Linked DNA regions of Homo sapiens. The protein of the gene in region 2 purifies or fractionates together with the protein of the main gene of each other region. This does not show direct contact. Each region holds a gene or a part of one and is shown on either strand. Other genes may lie near its edges.

Region 1 (7,705 bases), on a different chromosome or scaffold from region 2:
GGAAGACCCGGGAGCCAGAAAACAGGCTCCTCACAGTGGCAGTGGGGCCGGGGCTGGGAGCTGAGCACATGTGAACTCCAAAGAAAACATGAATCACTCACCGTTTATCAGTTCAAAGCAGGCCTGCAATTACCAGGGGCTGGGCTCTCCCCTCCTCTGGGATAATTATACACGTCTTAATGCAATTATGGGCCCTACTTTTTGTATTCAACAGGAGGGACCAGGCTAAGAAGCCACCATCCAAACTCCAGCCTGGTCTTGGGCCCACCGCCCCAAACTCCACCCTCACCCCACTGCCCCAACAAAGTCTGCTGGGAAGGGACTTGCCTGGGGTCACAGGGTTGCCGGCCAAGAAAGGGGGAGCCCCGAGCCTAGGGCTGGGTCCCTCATGCCCAGCATCTAATAAAGGCCAGTGACAATGCTTGGGCCACTTCTTCCACCTTAGGGGTATAAGACTTGGGGCTCAGACTCAAGGTCACCCAACTAGTCCCAGCAGGGCAGGGCCCAAATTTCGAGCTTCCAGAGACTGGACCAGCCAGCCAGCCTGCAGGGCTCAACTCTCATAGGCTTGGGTCTGCCTAGGAAAAAATGCATTCATTCCAAAGCTGGGCCCAGGTGCCAGGGTGCCAGGGGCCCATGCCGGGGCTAGGAGGGGAGCATGGGCAGATGCTGCACTCTACCGAGGAGCAGAGCTGGCCACTGTGGCCGGGGAAAGGCCTCAAGAGAGGACCAGGTAGCCTGGGAGCTGGTGCAGGAGGGTGGGCATTCGTGGTGGGGGTGGGGGGCAGAACAGGAGGAGCAAAGGCCTGGGGTGGGAAACACTGGCTGTGCAGAGGGCAGTAGGAACGGCTGTGGCTCTCCGGCATGGCCAGAGCTGTTCTAGGCTGAGGCAGAGCCAGAGCCAGGGCAGGGGAGGCTAGACTGGCCTTGGGATGCCGATGGGGCTAGCCAGGGAGAGAGAGGCGGAGAGAGACCCCGCGGTCTGCGTGCAGGAGCCCCAGCCCAGGGGCTCCTCTCCTGGACAGGAGGGGATCGCCGCCTGGTGGAACGCCAAGCCAACAGTGTCCCCTTCCCTTTCCTGGCCTGAGTGACACCAAAGCTCCTTCTCACCCTGAGAAACAAAGGCCCCCAAAGCCCTCCCCACAAGGAAGAGTCCAATCCCCCCAAGTCCTCCTGCGCCAGATCCTGCTATGGCTCAGGCAGGTTGGGGTGTGGGGCTGCCATCCTGCCCAGTGGCTCACAACAGCAGCCGGGGGGGAAGACAGCTGCTCCTGGCACTCCGCCTCCCCCACAACGGGGGTCATGGGAGGTGGTCCCAGTGGTTCTGCTCCCGACCAGTCCTAGGGGATCCGGCTCTGAAGGCCTTGGAGTCCTGCTCCTGAGAAAAAGTGCCTACCTTTGCAGGCCTTCCCCTGGGGCACCCGCTCCTCCCGGCCAGCTGCTCTAAGCTGCTCTGTGCACGGGGGCTTTCCTGGGGGCTCAAAACAGGCAGGCAACGACCTTGGGGGGCCAGGAGTCCAGCAAAGGGCTGTCTGCTTTGTCCACAGGCACCTCATGTGTCCCCCACCCCCAGAGCACACACTGAGGCCACAAACCCAGGCCTCCGCCCATGCTGTCCTCTGCCCAAAACGCCCTTCCTGGGCCCCACTGGCACCCCCCAGGAATGGAAGCCTGGCCCTGCAGCGAATCACTGGTTCACATGCCTGCCTCTGGCAGGGGGCTGGGTGCTCCTCAAGGGCCGGGCAGCATCTTGGTGCCCCTGGTGCAGCACCTGGCCTCTGCCGCACACCCCAAGCCGCAGGAAATCGAGGGGACCTGAGGCAAGCTCCTCAAGGGCCCGGGGAGCAGAAACTGCGCCCCATCCCTGCACCGACCCCCAAACCGGCTACGTGTGAAAGGAGATGGGGCAGCACGGAGCAGCCTGAGCCACAGGAGCCGCGCTGAGGGGACAGAGGCTCGACCACGTCCCCTCCCCGGCACACACACCCCTTTCTTTCAAGGGGCGTGGCCCCAGAACCCCACACAGGAGCCTGGGGCAGATCGCCGCCCGGGGCCGCCCCTCGGAGCCCCTCCCCTCCTTTCCAGGGCTGCACCTGGGACCTCACGCCGACCGAGGGGCCTCCCTGGAGTCCCCACTCCCCCTTCCCCTGGCAGCCCGGGATCGGCCCGCTGCCTCCAGCTTCGCCGCACATCAGGCCCGGGACTATCCAGGAAGCAATCGGAAGCCTCCGGGAGAAGCGGCTGACCCTGGAGAGGCCCCGAGAGGGGGAGGCCAAGGAGGCCCGAGCGGGGCGGCCTCCTGGGCGGCACCCAGAGCCCACCTCCCCGCACTCCGGGCCAGTGGGAGCGGTGGCAGCTGTGGTCGGGAAGCCGCTCCAACTTCCACCCCGCGCCCCAGGGCCGGCCGGGGGCTTAGCCTGCACGACCTCCTCCGGCCCCCGCGGCCCTGCTGGGAGGCTCCGATCCCTATCCGGGCCTGGCCACCCCGTCCTCGCCCGCGGCCAGAGGTCTGAGCCGAGGTCCAGCGGCCGGGACGGGCCTGGACACCGCAGGGGCCTCCCCGCGGGGCCGCCGCAAACTTTCTCCCCAGCCTCCGTGGAGGGGCAGCGCCCGCCCCCCGCCACCCCGGAGCTGCCGCGGGGCTCGGCGGGCCCGGCCGGGGGGCGGGGGAGGCCGCGGCGCTGGATCCCGGGCCGCGGTCCCAGCCCCGCCGCACGGGGGTGCGGTCTCTCCGCGTCGGCGCCGCGACCGCGCCCGGACACACGCGGACGCCTGGGCCGGAGCCGCAGGGACACGCGGGCCGCGGACACGCGCGCCGCAGTCCCCACGCGCGCCGCAGTCCCCGCGCACACCCCCTGCCTGCCGCCTCACGAGAGGGCCGCCGCCGGAGGCCGCCCCGCGCCCACCCACGGGCCGCCCGGCCCCGGACCCCAGCCCGGCCCGGCCCCCGCCCACCGTCCCGCGCCGCGGGGAAAGTTGCGCCCCGACTCACCCGCCGCCCCGGGGCGCGCCCCGCCGCCGGCCATCGCCGCGCCCAGCCGCCCGCGCCGCCGCCGCCGTCCGCCCCGCCGCGGGGCCGCCGAAGCCGCGTAGGCCGCCCAGGCCGAGGCCGCCGCCGCGCCCGGGCTCCGCTGCGTGGCCGCGCAGCCGATGCCCAGCATGAATGGGGCGCCGAGCGCCGCGCGGCTGCGGACCGGCCTCGCTCTCGCCGCCCGCGGAGCCCCGCGCCGCGCGCATGCGCCGCCCAGAGCCCGGGGGCGGGGCGGGGGCGGGGCCGGCGGCGGCCTCCAGAGGGCGCTCTGCCCCGCGCCGCGCGCCTGCAGGGGCCCACCGCGCGTCTTCAAAGGGCGATACGGCTGCCCGCCTCAACTCTCTGGGCGCCGGGGCCGCGCGGGCAGTTCCGGGAGCCCCCCGCTCTCGAGCGGGCTAGCCCGCGACCCCAGGAACAGGGCCTGGCTCAGTGTGCCCAGGCTAGGAGCATGGCCTCCTTTCACGGGGGGGGAAACTGAGGCTGAAGGAGGCAATCGCAGTTCCCAGACCTTGCGGGGCCGGGTGTTCCCAGCTCTCGGCCTCGCGCGTTCCGCTCTGTCAGATGGGCGGGCACCTGCGCGGGGAGCCCGGGCGCCCCCTGCAGGCCCCAGGCTGGTGGCGCATTCCCGGCTGGGGACGCAGCCCAGGGAGGAAAGTCCCGCGGCAGAGGCGTGGCGAGACGCGAACTCCGGCTGTAGCGTGGGGCAGCGGATCTACACGGTGTGAGGTGTGGGGCTGCAGAATCCAGGGTGACGGGCCAGAGCTGTCCAGGCAATACCCCCAGCCTGCATGGCAAGGCTGAGGGGCAGACACCCAGCACTCAGTTACTGTACTCACAACCGCCACTCCCAGGCAGGAGGCATCCGGGAGGGCCTCCCGGTGGACGCAACCAGGCCAAGGAAGGGGAAGCCGGCAACAGGAGCATCGATAACAGAGCAGATGGGCCAGGAAAACCCCGTCGTGGGAGGGCTGAGTCCCGGCTGGGGACTTGGCCCCCATCTGTAGCCTGAGGGGTGCGGTTTTTGCTGTGTGAATCACGTCACCCCTACAGAAGAGGAACTCTCTACAGTTCACATGGTTAACAGGGAAAGGGAATGGACTCATACCGGGCCCAGGTGTCCCTCCGCGTCTCACCCCGCTCCTCCCTCCCCAGGAGCAGCCACAACCCTCATTTTTGTGTTCATCTTTAAGTGCTTTTCTTTGGGTGTGACCTCTTATATTTGCACCCCAGAATGGGACGCTGTTTTGGGTGGCTTGTTCTGGGCATTACAGAAACGGGGTCACTCAGCCTGTGCTGTTTGCTCTGTCTGCTCTGTGTGGTGAGGGCACAGGGCAGCTGCTCGCAGGCATCGTCTTCGCAGCCTGTTTTGTTGGGCTCCTGCTCGCCCATTCTCCTGCCGATGGACATGGGATTGTCGCCTATCTGGAGCCATGATGAGCAAAGCTGTGATGAGCATCCTGTGTGTGCCTCTCGGTGGGCACCTTTAGATCCAGGGACGGTCTGCAGGGTCACGGGGTAGGATTTGTCTAGCTTCAGGAGATACAGCAAAACCGTCTTCCCAAGTGACAGCCCCAGTTTACACTCCCAGCAGCTTAGCAGGAGTGTGGAAGGGTCTGGCTGTCCCACATCCTCACCAATATTTGGCACTCTTTAGTTTTGCAAATCTAGTGGCATGAACTGGTTTTTCAACTAGGTGGTTTTGCTTGTCTGCTTTTTTTTTTTAGAGACAGACAGGGTCTCGCTCTGTCACCCAAGCTGGGATGTTGTGGTGCAATCAGAGCTCACTGTAACCTCAAGCTCCTAGGCTCAAACCATCCTCCTGCCTCAGCCTCCTGAGTAGCTGGGACTACAGATGGGCACCACCATGCCTGGCTAATTTTTTTTTTTCAAGAGATGAGGTCTCTATGTTACCCAAGCTGGTCTCAAACTCCTGGGTTCAAGTGATGCTCCCACCACAGCCTCTCAAAGTGTTGTGATTAAAGGCATGAGACACGGCACCCAGCCTCATTGAGTCTTACTGTGTCGCCCAGGCTGGAGTGCAGTGGCTCGATCTCAGCTCACTGCAACCTCCACCTCCTGGGTTCCAGTGATCCTCCCACCTCAGCTTCCCGAGTAGCTGGCATTACAGGCGTGTGCCACCATGCCCAGCTAATTTTTGTTTTGCCATGTTGGCAAGGCCGGTCTCAAACTCCTGACCTCAAGTGATCTGCCCGCCTCGGCCTCCCAAAGTGCTGGGATTACAGGTGTGAGCCACCATGCCCAGCCTCATTGTGGTTTTAACTTACATGTCCCTGAATGAGGCAGAACATCTTCCTCAAAAGTTATATTTATTATTTTATTTCCCAAGCACTAATACAGTGCTGGCTCTGCTACCTTCTACAGATGGGTGGGCTGAGGCTGGAGACGTGCTCAAGTTCCCCAGTGGATAGGAGGCCGGGCTGGGAGGCTAATCCCAGGAGTCTGGCTTCTCCAGTCTGTGGTCTTGACCCAGCCACTGGGCTGTACTTCCCCTCCCTTCCCTGGCAAACAAGACTGGAGCGCTTTCTTTCCTCACGGACTACCGAGGCACACGTGTGGGCGCAAATCCATCCTCATGGCTGGTGAAGGCAGAGCAAGTCCTGACTGCTCTCCGAGCCTCGATTTCCTCATCTGTGAAATGGACGTGAGAGCTTGCAGAGCTGTGGTGAGGGACACAGTGAGTGTGGACACCATGGCTGACCTCGGGGAATGTTCACCAGCTCTTGTCTGCGCCACCTGTCACCAGCACCAGGGGCTGTCCCTGCTGTCTGCCTGTTCCCGCCCTTTTGCCCCAAGGCAGACACTCCTCAAGGAGCTTCCTGCTCTGTACTCACGGTGCCCAGGAGAGCCTAGGCCTCTCCTCTGTGGTAGAGCCCCCTGTCTCCAGCTGCGTCTTGGGAAGGTCCAGGGCCGCTGGAGTCTACGTGTCCAGGACCAAGCTCCTGGTTAACCAGGTGCCTCCCTCATTTTCCCCATCTCTGCGAAACATGCCACATCCCCCAGGTTGCCCTACTGGGAACCTCCATGCTCCCCATGTCCCCTGCATCCCTCAGCCTGGTGGATTCTTCCCAAAAATATATTCCAGAACTTTCCACTTCCCTCCATCCCCACTCTGGGCTCCTCAGGAAGGAGCACCTCCTCTCTGCTCTGCCTGCTGTACTTGGTAACACCTTTCTGTCCAGTCCCCAGACAGCAGCAGCAAAAGCCATCACAGTGAGAATCTGCTCATGTGACCCTCTCATTATGCCCTGGAATTCCTTCTCCCATCATGAGCAACTGTGGATTCCAGGTGGCCTAGGTCTCAGCGCCACACAGAAAATTCTAAGGTTTTTAGGAGACCAGAGAGCAGATTCGCTTCCTGTCCCTGGGCTAGGGGAGGATTTCATAAACAAGATACTAAAAAAATAAAGAAAGGAAAATATGAGTCAATTTGACTACATTAAAATTAGTTACTTTTGCTCATTAAAAGTTATAAATAATGAAATAATGAGACAAGTCAGGATCTAGAAAGAGATGGCTTATAACACATCTAATTGTCAAAGGATGTGTATCCTGAATATATAAAGAACTCCCAAGAGTCAATAAGGAAAAGGCTGTGCCGCCACAGGAAGGTGGGGAGAAGACTGCACAGGCAGTTTGTGGGGACAGAGGCAAGTGCCTCTTGCTATGGATGGGCTGTGTGAGGCAGGCTCTAGAGCCCCTGCGGCTCTTGTCTGGCCCCGGCAGCAGCTGCCCTCTGTTTAGCTCTGAGCTCCTGGTGTGACCACACTGGGTCCTGACACTGCCCTCTGAGGAGGGACTGCAGCACCCCAAATGCAGACAGAGAAGTTGGAGGTGAGCAACCTTGGAGGAGCTGGGGTTGGAGCCGGGGTCTGTGACTTTGGGGCTCCTGACCCCACATCAAATAGAGGGGAAGTGACTCAGCAGGCTGCTGGGCTCTTCCCTCTGGGTTTCCCATGTTGGTTTAGCTTCTGTTTGCCTTCGGCAGCTCAGAGGGCTGGGGAGTTTGTAGAGTAGTGCAGGAGATTCCTAGGAACATGGTTCCATTTCAGGGGGGTCTGGAGAGGAGCTTCTTTTGGTGCTTTCCCATGCTCCTGCCCCTGGGGCAGCTCTGGGGACTGTTCTGCATTTGTACGAGTCAGAGCTTTCTGCAAAAGTATACTTGGGATCTCCTTCCCCTTGAGGCAGCCCCACTGCTACTGGGTGAGGAAGGAGATGGGGAGGATCCAGGCACCCCCAGCTCTGGGGAATGGCCCTCAGATCCCTGGTCACTGGGTTCAAAGCTGGTTGGGGGGGCATCTGGATTCCTGCCTGAGCCCACTTTGGAACTGGCACCACCACTGCCAAATATTCCTAACCCATCCTTGTCTCACTTCCCCTGCTTCTGTCACCTCCTGCCTGGAGGACATGGGGACCCTTAGTTGCCAGCGCAGTCCTCCCAACTCTGCTCTCCACACTGTGGTCCACAGGGATCTAATAGACAGCTGGGGAGACCCCTCTGCTCAGACCCTCTAGTGGCATCTTTTAACACATGAAATGCCTCCACACATGTGCACACATACGCACACACACACTCAAACATACAAACACACACATACACTCATGCAAACACACACACAAGTGCAAACACGCATGCAAGCACACATGCACACACAG
Region 2 (6,546 bases):
TAATGTAAAGTGTATATATTTAACACATCTGCTTAAAATTTCAAAAATTATGTATAGCAATGCTTTCCCACTTTTTAAAATTAAAGGACAAGTAAACATAGCCCATTAGATCTATCTTTCCTTTGAGCCAACAACCACTTTTTGCCTCTCATTGTAAACTTCTACTTTTTGAGTATCATTAGGAATGCATTGAATTTTTAAGTTTCAAACTATTCCAATTAACACTTATATCCTGTCAGGAATGGTGGCTCAAGCATGTAATCCTAGCACTTTGGGGGGCTGAGGAGAGCAGATCACTTAAGCTCAGGGGTTCGAGACCAACCTGGGCAATATGGTGAAACCCTGTCTCTACAAAAAAATACAAACCATTAGTAGGGTGTGGTGGCACATGCCTGTAGTCCCAGCTACTCAAGAGGCTGAGGTGGGAGGATCATTTGAGCACAGGAGGTCAAGGCTGCAGTGAGCCGAGATTGCACCGCTGTACTCCAGCTTGGGTGGCTAAGTTAGACACTGTCTCAAACAACAACAATAAAAAACCCAATTATATTCATTTTTGTTATTTTGTTATTGCTCTATGATGCTCAAATTGTGCATCATTGGAATGCAAAGACCAGTTAACTTAATGTAGATCAGAATTCTCAATACAAAGGAACCATACAAACCACCATATAACAAAGCAAAAGAAAAAAAAGGAAAAAGAAAAGAAAATTAAAAAGGTCAAACACACTAAGTTTAATGCTTGAACTTTATTTTGGAGAGAGAAATTTAGAAAGACACAAGGTACACAGAGTAAAATGTTTTTCTTTTTTCAGGACCTTGAACTGAATCTTGCACTGCTTTGGTTTCTATCTAGGAAGCTCAGCGACAGCAGAGTCTGTAGAGGCGGCCACTGATTTCACACACCCCGGAGAGGGACTCACGGGTAGCACAACGGCCGGTTCGGCAATAGCAGGTGGCTCTTGCCTGAGAACCTGTGGAAAGAAGAGAGGGTCAGGCACAGCGAGGGAGGTGGGAAAAAGGACAAGCACAGCCAGACTAACTGAGATAGTCTAAATAAGAGACACTGTATCAGTCATGTTAGGATGGAGAAAATTCATGTCTTTGTCGTAAGTGACAAGAAATCTTACTAGCTATGTGTTAGTCATGCAAGATCATAGTTTTTTTCCCCATGTGAGTCTATCCAGGATGTATTTATTACCTGCTCCCTGGTCCAACAATATACCTCTCAACCTCAGGGTTACCTACTCTTCATTCTGCTTCATCCACACGCCTAATCTTGACCTCCATGTGTGATTTCCAGGTCCTAACAAGGCTCCCTAAAGCACCTGAATCAGTTTCTGAAATGCCGCATTGTGCATGCTAATGTCATGGACCAAATACTTTGGTGCTCAAGGAGTCTTTGAAGACTTTCCAAATTCAAATTCTTCATTCTCTGTCTCTCCTTTTTTTTTTTTTTTTTTTTTTTTTAACATTTTACATATTTACTTGTTTTAATTGACAAACAATAATTGTGTATATGTATGAGACACAATATGATGTTTTGATCTAAGGATGTATTGTAGAAAGATTTAATCAAGCCTATTAGCCTACATCAAAACACACCTATAGGTTCCTCTCTAGGTTCTAAAAGCTTTTCCAATGGACAAAGTAAAACACTCTCTATATAACTAAGTCTGCCCATTTAGATCTACAAAGAACTAGTCAGTGTAGCTCTTTCTATCTTAAAAGTAGCAAATTTCACAGAAATATCTTGGAACTGAAAGTCTTAGAAAAAAGAAAATCTTTTAGATTTATTTGGTTCTCACTGATTAATTTATAGATGAGAAAATCAAGGTCCAGGAAGATTAAGTAAAGTCACTCAAGTGAGGTAGACCTTTCCACACTTGACTCCAGATCCTTTCTCCAATCCTTTTTTTCTAGATTTTGCAGATGTGCAAGATTGATGTCTCCTACCTGAGGTTCTAAGAGCAGAGAGTCCATTTCCTGCAAAGGAGATAGCAAGGTCCTGGTTGTCTTCCCCAGACTGCTTCTGGGTTGTAGCCTCATCAGCTCTTTCCTGGAGTGACTCAGCCTGGGCCTGCAGGGCCACCAGGAGAATGGCAGCAAGGATGGCGATGGTCCTCATGGCTGGGGTCACCTGCAGGAGGGAGAGCAGGAGTGGATATGTGGGGAGTGAGGAGTCAGCCTGGATTTATAGCTCTGCTGGGAGAAGACCTGAGACAGAAGCTGCAGTGAGAGGAGGTGGGCATGTGATTGGGAGGGGAAGGACTGCCTTTGTTCTCAAGATCCCTTTGATGCTCCTCTTTCTCCCAGCTTTCATCAAAGCGTGAGTCTGTATGCTTAATGCCTCTTCTTGATCCAAGGTGTTAATGATGATAAGGGTATTACTATCCTGTTCTGTTTCCCATCTGCTTGAGTATTTACTTTTATATATTCAAAAAAGAAAAACAACAGCGCTTTCATTCAAGAAGTTTGGGGATCAAATGCCTCTTGTTTTCTGAAGATGGTCCCTGGTACTCTCTGGATGACTCTCTGGGGGCAGACCTGGGACTCAGTGGAGTAGAGAGTTAATTCATTGCAGGATTCAGGGATATTACTAACCTCATGTAGGAGGCTTTTGAGATCTCGAGGTGAGTAGTCTCCCGCTGGTGCCAGTATGGAGAGGTCAATGACCTTATCAGGCTATAGGGGAAATGAGTTCAGTAAAATAGTAGGCCAAGTTTATCAGATTAAAATAAAAATTCGGATTTAGTTCAAGGAGTTGGTGTGATCTGAATGCATCACATAAAATGTGTAGCGGGTACTTCTCTCCACTTTGGGGAATATCAAAGTAATTTAGGTGCGTACAGCCCCTTTCTGAGATTTTTTTTTTAGTTTTAGAAAATTGTAAATCATGCACAAGGAACAACATTCAAAAGGTAGAAGTCATGAGCTCTCATTTCTACCCCCAGGCCTTCAGTTCTGACCCAGCAAACCATCACTATTAACAGTTACACATAGTATTCTGCACTTCGCTTTTTTCACCTGTAACATTGGCACTTTGTATATCAAAATACATGGAATGCTATTATAATTTTAATAGCCTTATACTATCCCAGGGTTTGTATATGCCATCACTTATTTTTTGTACTGATAAAATATTATAAAATTATTACAATTTGGTTATTTTTAAACTTTTGCAGTAATAAGTAAAGTTACAGTGATTATCTTGTATATATGTTCTCTTACCTATATGGATAAACTTATAGAAATAGAATTGCTGTGTCAAAGAATGCATCTTAAGCCAGCATGGTGGTACATGCCTATATTTCTAGCTATTTGAGAGGCTGAGGTGGGAGGATCACTGGAGACCAGGAGTTCGATACCAGCCTAAAAACATAGTGAGACCCCTTTCTCTTAAAAAAAAAAAAAGAGACTATATCTTACACATTTTTAAGATATTACTACATATTTCCATAATATCACCATATTTGATCCAAATCCTTTGGGGCTCAGTGGGCCCTTGGAGAGTCTCTATATTTGAATTCCTCATTTAATTTTTTTCAAATTTATTTATTTATTCATTGAAAAATAATTTTCTGTATATTTGTAGGGTATGATGTGACGTTTGGATTGATATCCACATGGGAGAAACACATAAGCTAATTAAGATAGCCATCACCTCACCAACTTAATTTTTTAAGGAGAATTACAAATTGATTCCTTTAGCAGTTTGAAAGATACAATACATCACTATTAACTGTGGTCACCGTGCAGTGCCATAGATCACTAAGACTCTCCAGCATAACTGAAACTTTGTACTCTTGGCTCAACATCTTCTCTTTTCCTATCTCACCCACCTGCAGCTTCTGATGACCACCTTTGTACTCTAGTTCCATAAAACTGACATTTTAACATTCCATGTGTAAGTGATATCATATAGTATTTGTCTTCCTGTGTCTGGTTTATTTCGTTTAGCACATTGTCCTTTGGTTCCATCCATGTTGTCATGAATGAAGAATTTCCTTCTTTTTTTTTTTTTTTTTTTTTTTTGAGACGGAGTCTTGCTGTCGCCCAGGCTGGAGTGCAGTGGTGCGATCCCGGCTCACTGCAACCTCCGCCTCCCAGGTTCACGCCTTTCTCCTGCCTCAGCCTCCTGAGTAGCTGGGAGTACAGTCGCCCGCCACCATGCTCGGCTAATTTTTTTGTATTTTTAGTAGAGACGGTGTTTTACTGTGTTAGCGAGGATGATCTCGATTTCCTGACCTCGTGATCCGCCCGCCTGGGCCACCCAAAGTGCTGGGATTACAGGAGTGAGCCACCGCGCCCTGCCAATTTCCTTCTTTTTTAAGGCTATATGGTATACCATCTTGCATGTATACCATATTTTCTTTATTCATTCATCCACTGATGAACATTTAGGCTAATTCCATATCTTGCTTATTTTGAATAATGCTGAAATGGACATGGGAGTGCAGATTCTTCTTTGATACAGTGATTTCAATTTCTTGGGAGATATACCCAGAAGTGGGATTGCTGGGTCATATGGTAATTCTATGTTCAGTGCTTTGAGGAACCGCCATACTATTTTCCAAAATGGCTGCACTAATTTACATTTCCACCAATGGCCTACAAGGGTCCCCTTTTTTTTATATCCTCACCAACACGTATTATTTGTCTACTTGTTAAAAGCCATTCTAACAGATGATTACCTCTTTATGATTTTAATTTGCATTTCCCTGATAATTAGTGATGTCGAGTGTGTTTTTCATATATCTGTGGGCCAGGTTTATTGCCCTTTTTTAAATTGAGATGTTTGTTTTCGTCTTATTGAGTGTTTGAATTCCTTATATCTTTGGGATATTAGCCCCTTATCAGATATATGGTTTGCAAACACTTTCTCCTAGTCCCTGGATCATCTTTTTGTTTCCTTTCTGTGCAGAAGTTTTTTAGTTGATGTAACCTCCTTGGTCTATTTTTGATTTTGTTGTCTTTGCTTTTGGAGTCCTGTTGTAGAAATAATTGCCCAGAAAAATGTCATAAAGATTTCCCTCCATGTTTTCTTCTAGTAGATTTACAATTTCGGGTCTTTTATGTAAGTCTTTAATCCATTTTGAGTTGAGTTTTGTGTATAGTGTGGGATAAGTGTCCAATTTCATTCTTCTGCTTGTGGATATCTAGTTTTCCTTACACCTTTTAGTGAAAAGACTGTCCTTTCCCCATTGTGTGTTCTTGGCATCTTTGTTGAAGATCAAGTAATCATAAAGCCCTGGGTATAGTTTTGGGCTTTCTACTCCTTTCCTTTGGTTATTGTGTCTGCTTTTACACCAGACCATGCTGTTTTGCTTCCAATAACTTTATGATACATTTTAAAATGAGAGAGCATGATGCCGCTATCTTTGTTATTTTTGCTCAAGATTGCTTTGGCTATTCGGGGTCATTTCTGATTTCATGCCAATTTTAGTATTTTTTTAATTCCTGTGAAAAATTGCATTGGAATTTTGATGGGGATCTACAGATCACTTTGGGTAGTGTAGACATTTTAATAATATTAATTCTTCCAATCCATGAACTCAAGATATCTTTCCATTCATTTGTGTCTTCTTCAGTTTTATTCATCAATATTTATAGTTTTCAGTGTACAGATCTTTCACTTTTTTGGTTAAAATTACTTCTAAGAATTTTATTTTTGAGTGCTATTATAAATGAGATTGTGTGGGCTTCTAAACCTTTGTGCCAGTCCAAACTCCTGTCTTTATTCTTAGTGACTCCTACAAAATTAGAAAGTGTCAAGTCATGCTATTGCCTTGAGAGAGTGGGAGAGAAGCCAGACCTTTAGAATACAGTGGAGAGGTTGGGGTGTTTGATATGTGTTTCAGTTTTTTCTTTCTTTGCAGAGAAACTGATAGAGTTTATCTCCCACTTATTCTGCCTTATGAAAATGAGAGGATCTGAATTAAATCTGTAATATCTATAATATTTATTTGAATTCGTGAATTAACAGGGAGCCTGGGAGGGACTAATTTCCTGCATCAGTGATTCCAGGTTTCATGGCCCTTGTTTTGCCCTGGTGGCCATTTAGCACCAGGTTTTAAACCATCTGTATTTGTACTGCTTCTCTATTTCTCACTGGACATTGCTAAGTTTGTAGATAGCGTTCCACAATTGTTTCCTAGCCTCCGTCTCTCTGGCATTGTCTCTCTGAATCTCTAGCAATGACTGAAGAAACAATTTGGGACATTTTTGTTCCAGTTCTAACCTTTCTCCATGAATTCTCTCATGTGTTTGATCACCCAGAGTCCTTATTATTTGGAGAAATTGATATCTTCAGTCTCTCTTCATCCTTCTCTGACCCCAAAATTAATTGGGTGAGCAGAAAATCTGGAAAGATAAATGGGTGGTTTAAAAACCACTGTCCAGGCCCTGTGGTGTGAGAGGCAGAGCTGAGCACTGGCCAAGCCAGAAGATGCCCGGTGGCCCATCTTCCCAGGACCAGGCCCTCACCGGCAGCCCATTGCTCAGCCTTAGACACAACTCTGTTGCCAGTCAAGTTTCTCATTATCTCTG
Region 3 (7,345 bases), on a different chromosome or scaffold from region 2:
CTCAGTCTGGGGCCCTTCCTGGCCCAAGTCTACCTCCTCTGCCCGGCCTCTGGCTTCTCCCACCTCCATCCATCTTGCCCTCAACACTGAGCCAGGCTCCATCTCCTGCTCACAAGATTCCCGCTTAGCTACCCCAGAAAAAGGAGTTTCTTCCTTAGGTGGCTGTGGTCACACCTGACGCTGCTGCACCCAGGGACCTCGAGGCCTGAAGTCCAGAGCCAGACCAGTGAGTTCACACCCCAGCTCTGTCACGTTCTAGCTGGCTCATGTGGGCCATTCAGAAAGCTGCTCTGTGCCTCAGTTTCCCCATATGTAACCTGGGGGTCATTATGGCGCCCACCTCAGAGGGCTGCCTTGAGGTTGAGTGGGTGTGGAAATCTTTACAGCTGTGCCCACTCAGAGAACGCTGCCTCACGACATTCCCACGTCCATGTTCACTGTGCTCCCTGGAAAGCCCCTGCCCATCCTTTAGACCCCGAGACACCCTCCCTAACCCAGCCCCTGAGGGACTGGCCTTGCTCTGTGGTCTATGGTCTTCCCCGACAGGCCCCGGCTGCCCCGCCGCCCTGCCCCAACAAGTCCAAACACTGGATCTGGTCACTGGGCACCTGCCGGTCCAAACTCAGTGAGCCGGGAAGGGGTGGTGACATGCAGGGGCGCGAGCCCAGAAGACCTGTCCCCGCAGGTCACCCCCAGGCCAACAGAGCAGAAGGGTCTCCTCCCCCAACCAGAACTCCGATGTAGGCCAAGGGCAGCACAGGGATGCTGGGCCTCCCCTCTACAACCTAGACAGCCTGGGAGGCAGCAGGAGCTGCTTGCTGGCTGGGCACCTGTGGCCCTCTCCTGAGGTCCCTTTTGTTTTTTTTTTCTGACCAGCAGCCCCCAGGCCCCTTGCACGGGCTGAGTCTGGCCCCCGCCCCTCCCACTGGGTAAAGGTAAACAAGAGGCATGTAAGGGGGAAGGACAGAGCCCTACTCCAGATGAGGCCAAGAGTGGGGGCTGCCAGGCCCCCAAACTCCTGCCAGCCTTGGTTCTGAGACCGCCCCAAGTCTTGGCTGCACTGCGGGGTGGTTCCAGTGGGGACTAAAATTGGGAGTTCTCTGCCTTTCAGTATTTTCAAGCAAACAGACTGGGCCATTCTTTTCTTTTTTCTGAGACAGGTCTCACTCTGTCACCCAGGCTGGAGTGTAGGGGCATGATCTTGGCTCACTGCAACCCCTGCCTCCCAGGTTGAAGCAATTATCCTGCCTCAGCCTCTCCAGTAGCTGGGACTACAGGTGCACGCCACTATGCCCAGCTAATTTTCTGTATTTCAGTAGAGATGGGGCTTCACCGTGTTGCCCAGACCGGTTTCGAACTCCTGAGCTCAGGCAATCCACCCGCCTTGGCCTCCCAAAGTGCTGGAATTACAGGCGTGAGCCACCACACCCAGCCAGACTGACCATTCTTAATGCTAAAATCAAACCAGCACAAAGCAGTCAGGCCCAGTGGGAGGGCAGGCCCAGCTTGGGGGCTGCTCTTGGCCAGGCCAGGCTGTGGGCTCTGGCACGGGAACCAGAGAGGGCAGGGGCCAGAGGAGGTGCATGGGCAGCGGCCCGGCAGGGGCCAAGATGGGGATCCAGGCAGCAGCCGCCATGAAGAACGAGGAGAGCTCGGGCCTAGGCCTGGGAGGGCAGGAGGGGGTGGCATGAGCACCTAGGACATGGGCGGTGGAGAAGGCAGAGGTCCTAGGGCTGTGCGGCCCTCCAGGGCTCAAAGGATTGGGGTGGACACAGGCCCTGCGTGGGGTGGGGGGGGGGCCCGGTGCGGGGGCGGGGGAAGCAGCCTCGGACCAAGTGAGCGATAGGCTGCCCCAAGCACAGGCCAAGGCGCGTCTGAGAGTGGCTGTCCCGGAACGGGGCGACAGGCGTCACAGAAAAGCCACGGAGGCCCCGGAGGCCCCGCAGCCAGCAGCCAGGGGGCCGGGCCAAAGCTAGCGACACACGCAAATCTGCAATTATCCCAGAGCGCTAAACACATCAGAGGAAACAAAACAGACGCGCCGGCGAATCCCAGCCTCCGCTGTTTTCAAAACAAGCGCGAGGGGGGTGCCGCGGGGCGTGGGGCTGGGGGGTCGGCAAGGACCCCGGCCGCCCCTTCCCGCAGCGCCGCGCCCGTGGGTAGGCGCGGGGAGGGACTGGGTGGAGAGCGCGCGGGAGACCCGGCGAGGGCGAGACCGGCGGCCCCGCCACCCAGCCCCACCCACCGGTGACCCGGGTCAGAGTTCAGCCCGGGAGGCGGGGGGCGGTGTCTCCTGGGTGGGTCTGCGAGCCCGGTACCCGGCCAGAGCCAAAGGCGGGCACCCGGCCTGTGTGGAGCGCCCTGGACTATTCCTCGCAGGCCGACCCAGGTGGCACAGCCCCTCCCCCGGCGCCGGCACCGCCAGACTCCCCGGAGGGCGCAGAACGGTTGCCCGGGAGCCAGGGGCAAAGCGCGCCCGGGGCCAGGAAGCGCAGGGACTAGGCCCGCGCCTCCTCGGCGCCGCCCACTGCCCCCCGCGAGCCCAAGCTCCACGGCCACCGCCCGCGCCCTCCCGGGGACTCCGGCGCCCCGTCCGCCCCTCGGCCTCGCGCACCTGGAGGGAGCACGTGGCCGCCTCTGGGACAAACCTCACCAGGCCGGGGGCCCAGGACGCGCGGGCGGGTGGGAGTCTGACCCGAGTAACAATGACGGCGGCGGCGACAGTCACACGAGCGCAGGAGACGTCGTCCCCGCGGGGCGCTCACCTGGCGTCGGGCACATCGGATCGCACAGCCGGCCATTACCTAAGTCCTCCGAGCCGTGGAAGGGGCGCGGGGAGCAGCTCCGCCCCGCCGATGGTGGCTCCGCCCGTGCCCCCGGTCGGTCTCAGGGCTCGGCCCCTCCCGGCCCAGCTGCCAATCATGCACGACCCTGCCCGGAGCAGCCTCCCGCAGGACTCCGGACCCAGGGTCAAGGCCAGACTCACCCGAGGCAAAGGCCGAACGCTCCCGGCACAACCCGACCTAGGAGCTGGGGCGGGGCGGGGCGGGGCGGGGCTCCAGGGACAGACTGATGTGGAGGCCTGAGCCTCGCTTCAGCGTCTACAGCGGTCCCCGCTGGACTCTCGGCTGAGGACCCCTCCCAGGTGGAGGCCGTCGCACCCCTTCCCCGCCAGCCTGGTTTCAGGGTGGGGTTCCTACTTAGGGCCAGCCTCCCCTGCAGTCTGGGCTCTGGGTCCCAGCAGGAAAAGTCACCCTGGCTGGTGGCAGTGATGGGGTCACCAGCCCAGGATCCTGGGGGTGCCCCATGAAGCCCCAGCTCCTCCTGTCACTTGCTCCAGCCGAGTTAGTCACAGCCCCCACTGGTCCACACCTCCTGACACACCCAGGCCACCTGGTACCCAGGGCCTCTGTATCTAGCCCTGGCCCTCAGGCACCCCCTGAGCTCACCTGGCCATGCCCAAGGGGCCTGCCCCAGCCCCCTCTCCGCCTCTGCACCAAGTGCAGCCCCTGTATATGGTGCGTCCCTAGACTGGGGCCCCAGGCTGCCCTCCCATCCTACACACAGTTGTGAGGCCCTCCTCAGCCTCCTCTCTGGCCACGGCCCACTGGCGCATCTGGAGGATGGTCCTCCCCAGCCCTCAGACAGAAGGTGGGATCCAGTTGGCTACGGCGCCCTGTCCCCACACGCACCAGGCCTGCAGAACCACCTCTCTCCTCAACCACCCCTTTCGGGGTCCCAGACCCCATCCTGTCCAACCTGGGCACAGCTGCAGCCCCCTCTTGCTACACCGTGGTCCTTCGGGTCAGAAAGCTGGGCAGCGCAATGAACCTACCGATGTCTCCGTGCTTCCTGAGGACCTCCTGTGGGAGGGGTGGGCACCGCCAGGCGCTCGGGGCACACGAGGCCGATGGCTACAGCAGGAACCACCAACTCATCAGGACAGGACATGCGGTCAGACAGCAGGCGGCCACGGAGGGACTCTCGTGGGATTCTGGGGCTCAGTCACTTGGAGTCTCTCCTGAAAGGAGGCCTCCCGGCCCGCCGGTGCCCAGCCCCACCTGCAGGCTCTCCTCTGAGTGGCCCCCACGCATCTCCCCCTTTCCAGCTCAACCCCGCAGCAGCCGGCTGCTCAGAGACCAGGTCCTGCCTGGATGCAGCTGGCTCAAGACCAGCCCCCGCCCACAGCCCCCTTCTCACCCCCGGGGTGGGCGTTGGGGGGTGGACGGGTGAGGCCCCAGCCAGTGAGCAGTAAGCAAGGCCTGTAATCTCCCCGTCAGCCTGTCAGCGCCTCAGCGGTCACCCCAGCCCCGCCTCGCCCATCACCGCTGAACCCCACAATTAGCTTGGGGCACCGCGCCAAGCCTGTGTGCCAGACACCACTTGCACACATGACCACACATGTGCAGACACACATGGCTGGGTGCTGCCGGAAAAGCCCTGCCAACAGGGTCTCACCCCAACACCCAGAACTCGTCCCCAGTACAAAGAGCCTGGGAGAGAAGCCTCAGGCCGGGGCACTTGGGCTAAGAGGGGCAGTGGGGCTCTCAGAACCCAGCGCTGCCTGGAGCCCCGAGGGAGGGGCCATGTGTGGCATGGGGAAGTGGGGTGGGGGCAGGGCCGTCTCAGCAGGGGAGAGGGGCTGCGTCTGCCCAGGATGAGCTGGGGGCTGGTGAGGCACAGGGTGTTGGGCAGGACCTGGGTCCAGGCCAAGGGTGAGGCAGCCCAGGGTGTGGGCTGGGCCCCACAGGGGCAAACACTCAGGGCTTTGGGAGGCCAGAGGGACAGGGATTTCCCAGTGAGGAAATGCCCATCTCAGAGTGGGGGCAGGACAGTGAGTGGGAGGTGATGCCCGTGGCTGGAGCTGTGTGGGGAGGTGGGTGCCCCTGGAGGCCAGGTCCAGCCCCTTGCTCCACGCGGAGGCTTGCTCTGCTCATGGTGGAGCTGAGGACTTCAAACCCCACAGGGCCTGGTCGAGAGCCACTGGGCCCCAGGTCTAGATGTGGAACTGGGGGACCCTCCAGCGAGCTTTGCTGGGCCTGGGCGGCCTGCCTGGGGCGCCCCACCTTCACGCCCTCCTCCCTAACATCCTTTTCTCCTGAAGTCCCTCAGGGTGGTCACCAGATCAGGCTCGGTGCCAACATAGGAGTGGGGAGGCCAAGCCCCTCAGCTCCCCTGGCCAATCTCTGAGGCTGAGAGGGAGTGGGGGGGGCCATGCTGGAGCACCTCCCTCCCACCACCTGCCCCTTGCCCCTGTCAACTGCTGGCTCCACTTAAAATAGCTTCTCCCCCTCGCTGGTGGGAGGGAGGCCCTGGTGTCAAGCCGGTAAGGCTGGAGCAAGGCTGGGCACAGGGCCTGGGCTCAGCAGTGTTCTGTGCCCTCCATCTCCTCCAAAGCAGGCCCCAGCTCTGAAAACACACCTGACAGGGCTGGGATCCACAGAGTCCTCACCTCCTGCTGGTCCTCAAACCCCACTCTCCATGGCTGGGTCCCTGAAATACTTGGATTACCCTCAAGCCCCCCGCCATCCCCCCAAGCTGTGGCTCCCATGCCACCCTACCACGTCTGAGTCACACAGGCCCAGGCCTCCCTTGCTTCCCCCAGGAGAGACCCCCCCACACTCCTGCTTCTGGCCTGTCCTCAGAGCCCCAGAACTCACCTAGGTTCAAAGCCAGACCCCAGCTGAGGACAGAGCATGGACCCCAGGCAAATGCAGTGACAATCACAGAGCACGCTCCTACCACAGCCACCCACGCAGCCTGAGGCATAGCCCCCTGGAAACTGCCTCGGCCTTCAGCACCCCACTTTGGACCAGCAGGGCAGGGGGGTTCCTCCTCTGAGAAGTCCTCAAAGCTGCCTGGAAGGAGCAGACAGTGCCCCCAGACGCCAATCTGACAGGGGGCCCAATCTGTCTCTGAGCAGGTGGCATGCTGGCTCGGGGGCCCCAGACCACAACAGAAGGTCACCTGGGAAGAGAGCCGCAGCCCTACACAAGGCTCGTGGGCAGGAACCGTCCCAGCCACAGGAGCAGACGCCCTTGCCTGGCCCCTCAGGGGGCCGTGTTCACACAGGAGGCCTTCTCAGAGGTGGACACCAAGCACTTCTCTCTCTTGCGCTTGCTGCGGGACTCAGCTGGGGCAGCATCAGGCCCAGAAATCGGTGCTGGACACTGTGTCTCCACACAGGGCCCCCCATGGAAGCTGCTGACCAGCTGTGCCAGAGGGGCCGGGGCCCTACCCCCAGGAGCCCAGTCCCTGCCTCTGATGCTGCTGCTGCTGGGACCCTGCTGGCAGAGCTGGTGGCTGAACTGGGGCAGCACCTCCCTCTCCTGCCCCAGGCCTGGGCCGGGACTCAGCTGGCACTGGAATGAGGAACTATTGGCTTTCAGAAGCCAGGAGACCTTAGGGGGCTGAGGAAGAGAGCTGGACCTGCCCCCAGGCGCCCTGATCCCAGCCCAGGGCAGTCTCCTCCCTCACCTAGCCTGGGACATGAGGCAGCTCAGGTGTGGCCTTAGGGGCTACCCCCAGGGAAGGCCACCAACCATAGCGGGCCACGGTGTGGGCTGGCCTCTGGGTGTGAAGGGCTCCAGGATCTGGGCTGCAGAGGCGGGACTGTGCGAAACAGAACCCCCAGCTCCACAGCCAGGCCAGCCCCAGGCTCCTCCCCAGACAGACATCCCCGGGGGTGGGGCAAACCTGCAGTACCACCAGGGGCAGCCTGTCCCACCATCCCCGGCACCACTGGGCCTGGGGCCAGTCACTGTCACAGGTTCATGAATCTCACAGGGCAGGGTGGATCCACTGGGGGGGTGCGGGGTGCCAGTGTTCAGGGCCAGACGGGAGGGGCCCAGCCAATCCCTTCACACGCTTGGTCTTCAGAGAGAAGGCTTCTGAGCCAGGAGGGCCACTGTGTCAGGGCCTGGCTTGAGGCCACACCTGTGGCTGGGGGAGCCCAGAACAGTGCAGGGTCCTTCCCTGGTAGGCAGAGAAAGGCAGGGGTCCTTACAATCCAGGGGTATGGGAAGAAGCAGGCCCTGTGTCAAGGGATGTGAAACCACGGAAAGGAAGAAGGTGGAGGAACCTCGACCAGAAAGAGGGAAGCTAGGGCAGCTGCCTCCCCGGGGCCCCAGAGCCTGAGCACCCCCCACCAGCCAAGGCTCTGACCCACCCTCCCCATCGTGTAATTAGTCAGAGACCCAGCCCCACCCCACCCACAGCCCCACCCCAAACACAAACAGCCACTACCCCTGAGGGAGGGAGGGGCTGTGGCCAGTCCCAGCCCTACTGAATCTCCCACCCCCAGAGAACCTGGATCTGCCTCAGAGAAGGGAGGTCAAGGCTGGGG
Region 4 (8,337 bases), on a different chromosome or scaffold from region 2:
GAGGCTGAGGCAGGAGAATCGCTAGAACCTGGGAGGTGGAGGTTGCAGTGAGCCAAGACCGCACCACTGCACTCCAGCCTGGGCAACAGAGTGAGACTCTATCTCAAAAAAAAAAAAAAAAAGTTCTCAAAAGTATTTTGAACTTCCTCACCTTTGTCCTATTTTGGAAGGAGGGGGTCTACATTGAAGAGATCATACAGAAATAAATTAATTGTTACAAAAGGAATGGAATGTCTATACTTCTTACCCTATTGAGTTACATTAACTGCATCTTCAACTTAATTTAAAGTGCTCCTCAACCTAAAATATCGTCATGTGTCTTTAAAAATGCATATTACTAAATCTATTTTTTTTTCAGTCTATCATCCACACTGCAGCAAGGTGATTCTGCCAAAACATATCTCCTTAAAAGCCAACTGGAGCTTCTCATCAGCATCAATGTGAAGCCAAAAATCCTTAGGAGGACAGAGGGAGTCCCTCACAACCTAGACTGGTCCCCTTCCCTCCAGCTGCCTCAACTGTCCACAGGACTCTCTTCCCACCTGCGGCCACACTGTGCAACCTGGAATTTCCCCACCTGGGCGGACTCATCACGTCATCACCAATTGGATGCATCTTCTGCTCTGTGCAGCTGGTGAAATCTTTCTCAACCCTTGAGATGCAGCCCAATCTTCTCCTAACATCTGGATTCCTCTCTGTCACTGCATTCCCTCCTGTCATCCTGCCTTTGTTTTCTTGCCCTCCTTTCTCTCCCGGGTGATAGGCATTAACTAAAATTAAATAAAAATTCAGATCATCCTTGCACTTGCTGCATTTCAAATGCTTGGCAGTCACATGTAGTTAGTGGCTACCCTCTTGGACAGCACAGATAGAGATTATTTCCATCACTGCAGAAAATTCTAGACTTTGAGCTTCTTGAGGACAGGGGCTTGATCATTCGACACTGCTTTACAGTGTCTAGCAGTGTCTACCCTGTGGCAGGGGCTCAGGAAATTTTTCCTGAACCGAACCTAACTGAACTGATGTGGGTTTGTCATCAGGGTGTACCTGCTGTTAAAGGAGGTTACGACCTCTGATGCTGGGGTGGCCAGAGGGGATGGGAGTGGGTCTGGCACTCTGAGGAAAGGGGGTGAAACCAGCTGAGAAGTCATCTTTTACCTGCTGGCATGGCCCCAGCCAGGGTTCTGTTGCTATGGGAGAATGGGTGAGTAGGGATGGATTACACCACCCTGGATCTAGAGGACAACCTGGCTTGAGGGGCATGGGGGACGCTGGAAGTCAGGGTAAGAAGCTTGGACTTCATTCTACTGGCATGGAGAGCCCCTGGAAACTACTGAGCAGTAGAGGGATAGGCTAAGCTTATAGGAGGAGCCAAAATTATTACTGTAGCTCCTTAGATCTTAGATCCTGTGACTTAGGAAAGGCAATAGGAGCCCCTGAGCATTCTGGGTCCTTTGTACATTTGGGAGAACAGAGGCCCGGAGTGGGAAATCGTCCTCCTGGGCAGCACAAACATGGCTGCTCCATTCCTATTCAGAAGCCTCGTTTCCTGATTAAGGCTCTGGCATCTGTGGTGTTTCATTGTTCATTATTCATGAATAGACTTGGCCCTGTTCAAAACTAAAGCTTCAATGCTGCAAATGAGGGCTGCAGAGAGGATGTTGGGGAACTCGTCTGTTTGGCTTCAAAACTGCCCCCTTTCCTCTGGAAAAATCCTCTCTAGAATACCGTGCCAAGGCCTGGTGAGTGAGAAATGAGTTTTCATGATGTATCAAAAGAAAAATGCTTCTTTTAAGAAAACGTCTTTATAAATGGCAGCAGATGGGGAAGAATCTAAAAGAAAGAGCAACGCTTGCAGGTTGAAAGCATTACCTCCAGATATGGAGACGTTAGGACTAAGGGAAGGTCAGAGATGGGCCCACGAGGCCAGGTTTCAATGGACTTACCATTTCCTTCTTCGTGCATCCACTGATGGACACACGTAGGCACACGCACCAACAGCCTCCCATGTGGACAGTCCAGGGTGCCCAGAACCCTTCCAGCAAGACTTTGATTTCTGTTTCGAAGGATTTCTTGAGGCCCCTCTGTAGAGCTGCTTGTCTTCTTCATAACCGGTGCCTGGGTCAGAGCAGGTGGGGTGAGCTGCACTCACAGCTGGGAGGTGAGTCTGTGATCTCATTGTGCAGTGGCCCTGCCAGGTTGCTCTTTCTAAAACCTTGGGTATTGCAAATTCTGCTTCTTAGGGACCGCTTGGTCCCCCAGTCCTCCCCCTGCTGACTCCCTTCCTGATGAAGCCACCAGCATGGCTCTCAGGGTAGTGCTGTCTTCCTTCTCTAGAACAGCCACGTGGCCCCAGGGCTGGCACTTACTGGTCACCGTGGTTACAGACGCCTCTTCTAGGCTGTGAACTGTCACAGGAGTGGGTCCACTTCGGCCGACACTTCCTCAGGGGTATTAAGTAGCTGGGGGTCCCCCTGAGTCTCCATCACCCTCTTACCCATTCTCCACCCCCTCCCCCACCACACATACACTCTACTCCCCCAGTGCTGAATAACTTGCCAAAGCACTGTGCTGGCACTGGGGCATGGTAAAGAAGACGGGGCCTCTGCCCTAGGGAGGAGGTGATGAGGGCAGGAATAGCAGCACAGAGGGTGAGAGGCAGAGACAATGGCACTGAGTGGGGGCACGAGGATGGAAGAGGAGCATGCTAGATGGGACGATGGGACCCAGCACTGACCAAATAGAAGCTTGTGGGTGGCACATCAGTCACTCCAGGGACATATGTGGTCACTGCCATTTTCCTAATGAAACTCCTCCAGTTATTAAACAAAGGCCCAGAGTCACAGACTTAAGGACCAGAAGTGGGATTTGAACCCAAGTCCCCCAGATGACAGGGCTCCCACGTGCTTCTCTAGGTCACATGAGCCCACGCTGGAGGGGAGGAGGGGTGTTTCAAGAAGAGGGGAGATGTGGGCAAAGAAAGGCACAGAGACCGTAAGCAGACAGGTGTGTTCCAGAAAATGCAAGTTATTTGGCACTGGGGGAGCAGAATGTATATGTGGTGGGGGAGGGGTGGAAAATGGGTGAGAGGGTGGTGGAGACTCAGTGGGATCCCCAGCTACTTAATTCCCCAACAGGGAAAGAGCCTAGAAACTCCCTCCACCTCCCGCAAAGCAGTGGGGAAGTTGCGGCCACACTGTTTTCGGTCCGCTCATTCCCTCTGCAGTCTGGCTGCTCAGGGGGATGGAGGAGGATGGGGCTTGCAGGCAGGCACAGCCGGTTTGGAAGGTGTCCTGGCTCCAGCACTCAACTTGTGGCATGACACTCAGGGGAGTCACCCTTTCTGGCCCTCAGTTTTCTCCTCTGTAAAATAAGGAAATTCGACAAAAATAAGTTATCACCAATTTATTCACCACCACGTGTCCTTTTAATTCCATCTGCCCCAGGACTGCAGTGGGGAGTCTTTCTTTGCCGATGGACTTCGAAAATCATCACCCCCCGCATTTTTTGTGGTTAACCACAGCTAGCCAGGAACTCAGGGCTTCTCATCAGCAGAGGCCTCTGCCTCTCCAGTATCCAGGGCCGAATGGATTTTGGGTCAAGGCCTCCCTCCCGCAGCCAGGAGGCCCTGGCTTTATGGAATATCGCTTGGAGTCCAGGGAGTCAGCATGGGGACCCCGACAGCTTTCCCATGCCCCAGGCTCCTGGGCCTTTCTGGGGGACCCCTCTGGACCTTGGGCATTAACAAGGTTCATATTTGGAAGGTGCTTTGAGGGGGCTTATAGGTATTTGGAGTTTACTTTTTAAACTATTTGTATTGGAAAAATAACGTGTGCACAAGGGAACAACCCAAATACAGAAGAATATTAAAATCCCCAAGCCCCCAGCCCCCTCCCATGCTACTCTATCCCAAAGTCAGCTCTGCCGGCTCACCCAACCCTGGGTGCCTCTGCCCAGGGTGGGGGTGGAGGTTTGAGGGTTCGGGATGAGGGCTGGACGAAGGGCCTCCTCTCAGGTCCTTGGACACGAGCTGTGCCCATCTGCTCAGTGTGGACCCAGGACTACTGCCCACAGGCCTGGTGCTGCCTGGGCACCCAGACCCACCTCCAGGGTCGCCCTCAGCCCTCCTGATGACTCTCGGACTCGCATCTGTCCCAACGGATGCACCAAAGATTCTCCAGTGGGAAATCAAATTTTTGATAACAAGTGTTTTGAAATAATCACGCACTTGGTGAAAAATCAAAAGAGGGGAAAACCCCTTTCCCATCTGAGACCGCTCCACCCTCGCCAGTTACGAGCTGCCGAGCCGCTTCCTAGGCTCTCTGCGAATACGGACACGCATGCCACCCACAACAACTTTTTAAAAGAATCAGACGTGTGAAGGATTCTATTCGAATTACTTCTGCTCTCTGCTTTTATCACTTCACTGTGGGTCTGGGCGCGGGCTTTCTGCCAGCTCCGCGGACGCTGCCTTCGTCCGGCCGCAGAGGCCCCGCGGTCAGGGTCCCGCGTGCGGGGTACCGGGGGCAGAACCAGCGCGTGACCGGGGTCCGCGGTGCCGCAACGCCCCGGGTCTGCGCAGAGGCCCCTGCAGTCCCTGCCCGGCCCAGTCCGAGCTTCCCGGGCGGGCCCCCAGTCCGGCGATTTGCAGGAACTTTCCCCGGCGCTCCCACGCGAAGCCGCCGCAGGGCCCCCTTGCAAAGTTCCATTAGTTTGAAGGACGCGAATCTCAGCGAGAGAACCTGCGGAAAGCGAATATGTGGGGCGCGCAGACGGGGAAACTGAGTCCCGCGAGAGGGCCGGCCTGTGCGCTGCCCCGCCCGCGCCCCGCCAGCACCGCCGTGCCCGGGCGCGCCCGCCCTGCCCCCTCCGCGGGCGGTCCCGGTCCAGCCGCCCGCCCTCCCTCCCGCCATCCGGCCAGCCCCCATCCCGGGCGCCGTGCCCGTCCCCAAGGCGGCTCGTCACCGCTGCGAGGCCAATGGGCTGGGCCGCGCGGCCGCGCGCACTCGCACCCGCTGCCCCCGAGGCCCTCCTGCACTCTCCCCGGCGCCGCTCTCCGGCCCTCGCCCTGTCCGCCGCCACCGCCGCCGCCGCCAGAGTCGCCATGCAGATCCCGCGCGCCGCTCTTCTCCCGCTGCTGCTGCTGCTGCTGGCGGCGCCCGCCTCGGCGCAGCTGTCCCGGGCCGGCCGCTCGGCGCCTTTGGCCGCCGGGTGCCCAGACCGCTGCGAGCCGGCGCGCTGCCCGCCGCAGCCGGAGCACTGCGAGGGCGGCCGGGCCCGGGACGCGTGCGGCTGCTGCGAGGTGTGCGGCGCGCCCGAGGGCGCCGCGTGCGGCCTGCAGGAGGGCCCGTGCGGCGAGGGGCTGCAGTGCGTGGTGCCCTTCGGGGTGCCAGCCTCGGCCACGGTGCGGCGGCGCGCGCAGGCCGGCCTCTGTGTGTGCGCCAGCAGCGAGCCGGTGTGCGGCAGCGACGCCAACACCTACGCCAACCTGTGCCAGCTGCGCGCCGCCAGCCGCCGCTCCGAGAGGCTGCACCGGCCGCCGGTCATCGTCCTGCAGCGCGGAGCCTGCGGCCAAGGTACTCCGCCGCGCTCCTGGGCAGCTCCCCACTCTCTCCATCCCAGCTCGGACCTGCTTCTGCGGGACTGGTGGGCAGGTTGAGGGGCAGCGAAGCGTTGTGGGGTGGCCAGGGCAACTCTCGGGGACAGGCAGGTGGGCCCCGGGGTGGCGGATTTCCGCGGGCTGCCTCGGAACCGAGCTTCGCGCCCAGCCCGGGGCCGGTTCTGCGCCCAGACGATGCCAGTACGCCCGGCCTGCACTCTGGGGCTCGAGACGCCGGGCGACCGGCCATGGAGTGCCCTGAGGGCAACCACACAGCGCGGGGACCCCAGGACAAATAAGAGGAATGGGGGCATAAAGGAAGGAGAGAAGTTCAGGACTGGGAATTGGCGCCTCGCAGAGCGGCTTCAGGACCACAAGAAGTCATTTCGGTTGCTTTTTCTTCTATTTACGTCCTCCGTCCCCTTTAAAATTCACTGCTTTGATCACGGGACCGCTCAGTGAAAACTGTATGTAACTCTTTTGGAAAGGAACAGTGTTTGCCGGCCCGCCCCGGAGTTTCTCCAAAAAGTCTACCCCGAGCAGGGAACGGTTTGGCACCGCTCTCGTTTCGGCGGCGTTGCTGCCTGTCTTGCTTTCCTCGTTTTGAGCCAGCCCTACAAAAATGAAAGTGGCTCCTTTTGAATAAGCTGAATCGGGCTTTGGATCACGAAATCTGCAGAGGCGGAGAAGGGACCGGGTTAGTGATGAGGAAGAAGTCTACCCCTCTGTTCCTACAGCCGCACACAGGACCTGTTCTGGCAGGGGAGACGGTGGTGATGGGGGAAGGAGTGGAATGGAGCAATGTCTAACTCTCTCGCGGGACCTTCCGGAGAGATGCTCCTCATCTTCAGGCAGAGGCCATGTGGAAAAATAATATCGAGTTCAGCAGCGGCCAGCCCCGCGTTGTAGGAACCAGACAGCGGGGCTTGGCAGTGCGCTTGGGCGCAGCCGTGCCGCTGCTGCCGGACCCCAGTGCTGCCTCCTCAACACGGGCAGTGCCAGGAGAGGGGCATAGGGGAGCACAGTGCAGAGGGACTGGTCTAGAGTTTACTTTATAGGAATATGGTTCGGTGTGACCAACTAGGGCTTAGCATAGTTTGGCTTACGTGGACGGGAAGATGCCAGAGCCGAACTGGGTGAAATTCGAGATTGCGTATTTCACCAACACAGGAGCACAGCCCTCGGGAAACTCAGCCTAGTCAGGCAGTAGAGAGTTGTCCCGGAGAGAAGTGATCCTGCAGACTCGAGAAGGGGCATGATGATAGCACACGTCTGTTGAGCACCCAGTCTGTGTGCCGGGTGTGTTACCTCTGTGACCTCATTTGGTCAAACGAGGAGGCAGTTGCTCCTCTCTCTCTCTTTTTTTTTCTTAAGAGACAGGGTCTCCCTCTGTCGCCCATGCTGGAGTGTAGTGGTGTGATCATGGCTCACTGCAGCCTCCGACCCCTGGGCTCAATGATTCTCCTGCTTCAGCCTCCCAAGTGGCTGGGACTACAGGCGGATGCCACCACACCCAGCTTCTCATTCCCGTTTTACAGATAGCGGAGCTAAGGTTGAAAAACTTGCCCAAGGTCATTCAGCTGGAATTTAAACCCAGACAGCCTCATTCAGAGGAGTCAGCCCAGCACTTAACTCCAAGGGTGTGGGAGAGGGGTCAGGTGCTGTAAATTTCCTGGTGGGCTGGACGTGCATCCCCCTCAGAGCTGGGAACAGCATACACAAAGCCTAAGACTTGTTTGGAGGTGAATAGATCAGTGTGGCTGGGGAACGTTTTGGGAGGGCAGCAGGAGTGAGCCAGGCTGGTGGCCCAGAGTCCCAGGGCTGAAGAGGCTGGCTGTGCCCCGTGCCCTGTGCGCAGATGTTCTTGAACTGGAGCAACTCAAAGCCTAGTGTAGTGTAGGGCTGACCTAGCAGTGGAGTGCGGAATGCATCCAGGGTGGAGAGTTTAGACTACTGCAATAATCTGGGTGTGAGGCGACAACATTGAAAAAGCATGTTTTTGTCCAAAACAAGCCAGCTGTTACTGGTCTCGCTGTTTGTGGTCTCATCGCACGGGGTCCTGAGTTGCTGGCACCATGCGAGCCGCCTAATTTATTGCTAGTGAGGCAAGTTGCTTAACAAGTTTTGGAGTTGGCTGAGTCCCTGTGTGGAGGAAAACAGGTCCCCCATTGGCCATCGGGCTCACAGCGGGCCCCCGGTGTACCAGTGAGGGGACAGCCACAGAGGGATAAGCATGGTGGCTTTGAAAGGAGGGAGAGACAGAGTGGGTACAATGCTTTTCTTATCCCTCCCTCCTTCTTTTGCAAATATTTATTGAGCTCTGTAGGGTGTCTGACACCGTTTGCATGTTTGTCTGTCTGGCACATCGGAGGTACTTGGTACGAGTGGATTAGTGAATGAATAAATGAATGAATGAAGACAAACGGGAGGTGCTTGCGATACACAGCCATTCTGTTTTTCCTTAGTGGAAGGCACTGCTTTGCTGCGCCCCCTCTCTGGATCTCACACTCCACCCTTGACTTTTCGGAGGTGTTTCCGAGGACAGGCGCCTGGGAGCCAGCAGACTTCATTCAGTCCAAGCCAGGCTCCAGGACTCAACAGCTGGTGCCCACGGGCAGGTCACTTGACGTCACTGTTAAATGAGGTGAATTGGCTGCCTGCTCTGGCTGGAAGATTGGCGGGAGAGTCACTTTAGCTGCCATGGACATGAGCCTTTTCTAGGGGTGCCACTTGACTAG

What was found.
Region 1: the proteins of DEFA5 (region 2) and PLXNA1 purify together in Homo sapiens (co-immunoprecipitation; 3 studies listed by BioGRID and IntAct, with this or other methods). This does not show direct contact.
Region 3: the proteins of DEFA5 (region 2) and PLXNB2 purify together in Homo sapiens (co-immunoprecipitation; 3 studies listed by BioGRID and IntAct, with this or other methods). This does not show direct contact.
Region 4: the proteins of DEFA5 (region 2) and HTRA1 purify together in Homo sapiens (co-immunoprecipitation; 3 studies listed by BioGRID and IntAct, with this or other methods). This does not show direct contact.

What each region holds. Positions count from the first base shown.
Region 1 is NC_000003.12:126,978,575-126,986,279, reverse strand, and holds the start of PLXNA1 (plexin-A1 precursor), read right to left. Parts: upstream 3,166-7,705; 5' UTR 2,993-3,165; intron 1-2,992. UniProt on the Homo sapiens protein: Coreceptor for SEMA3A, SEMA3C, SEMA3F and SEMA6D. Necessary for signaling by class 3 semaphorins and subsequent remodeling of the cytoskeleton. Plays a role in axon guidance, invasive growth and cell migration.
Region 2 is NC_000008.11:7,054,573-7,061,118, forward strand, and holds DEFA5 (defensin alpha 5 preproprotein), read right to left. Parts: upstream 2,168-6,546; 5' UTR 2,126-2,167; coding exon 1,954-2,125; intron 972-1,953; coding exon 859-971; 3' UTR 732-858; downstream 1-731. UniProt on the Homo sapiens protein: Host-defense peptide that maintains sterility in the urogenital system.
Region 3 is NC_000022.11:50,297,512-50,304,856, forward strand, and holds part of PLXNB2 (plexin-B2 isoform 3 precursor), read right to left. Parts: intron 6,311-7,345; exon of another isoform or gene 5,968-6,310; intron 4,159-5,967; exon of another isoform or gene 3,952-4,158; coding exon of another isoform or gene 3,836-3,951; intron 3,001-3,835; exon of another isoform or gene 2,987-3,000; intron 2,825-2,986; exon of another isoform or gene 2,615-2,824; intron 1-2,614.
Region 4 is NC_000010.11:122,456,549-122,464,885, forward strand, and holds the start of HTRA1 (serine protease HTRA1 precursor), read left to right. Parts: upstream 1-5,004; 5' UTR 5,005-5,104; coding exon 5,105-5,576; intron 5,577-8,337. Other genes in the region: ARMS2 (age-related maculopathy susceptibility protein 2), read left to right, coding at 359-385. UniProt on the Homo sapiens protein: Serine protease with a variety of targets, including extracellular matrix proteins such as fibronectin. HTRA1-generated fibronectin fragments further induce synovial cells to up-regulate MMP1 and MMP3 production.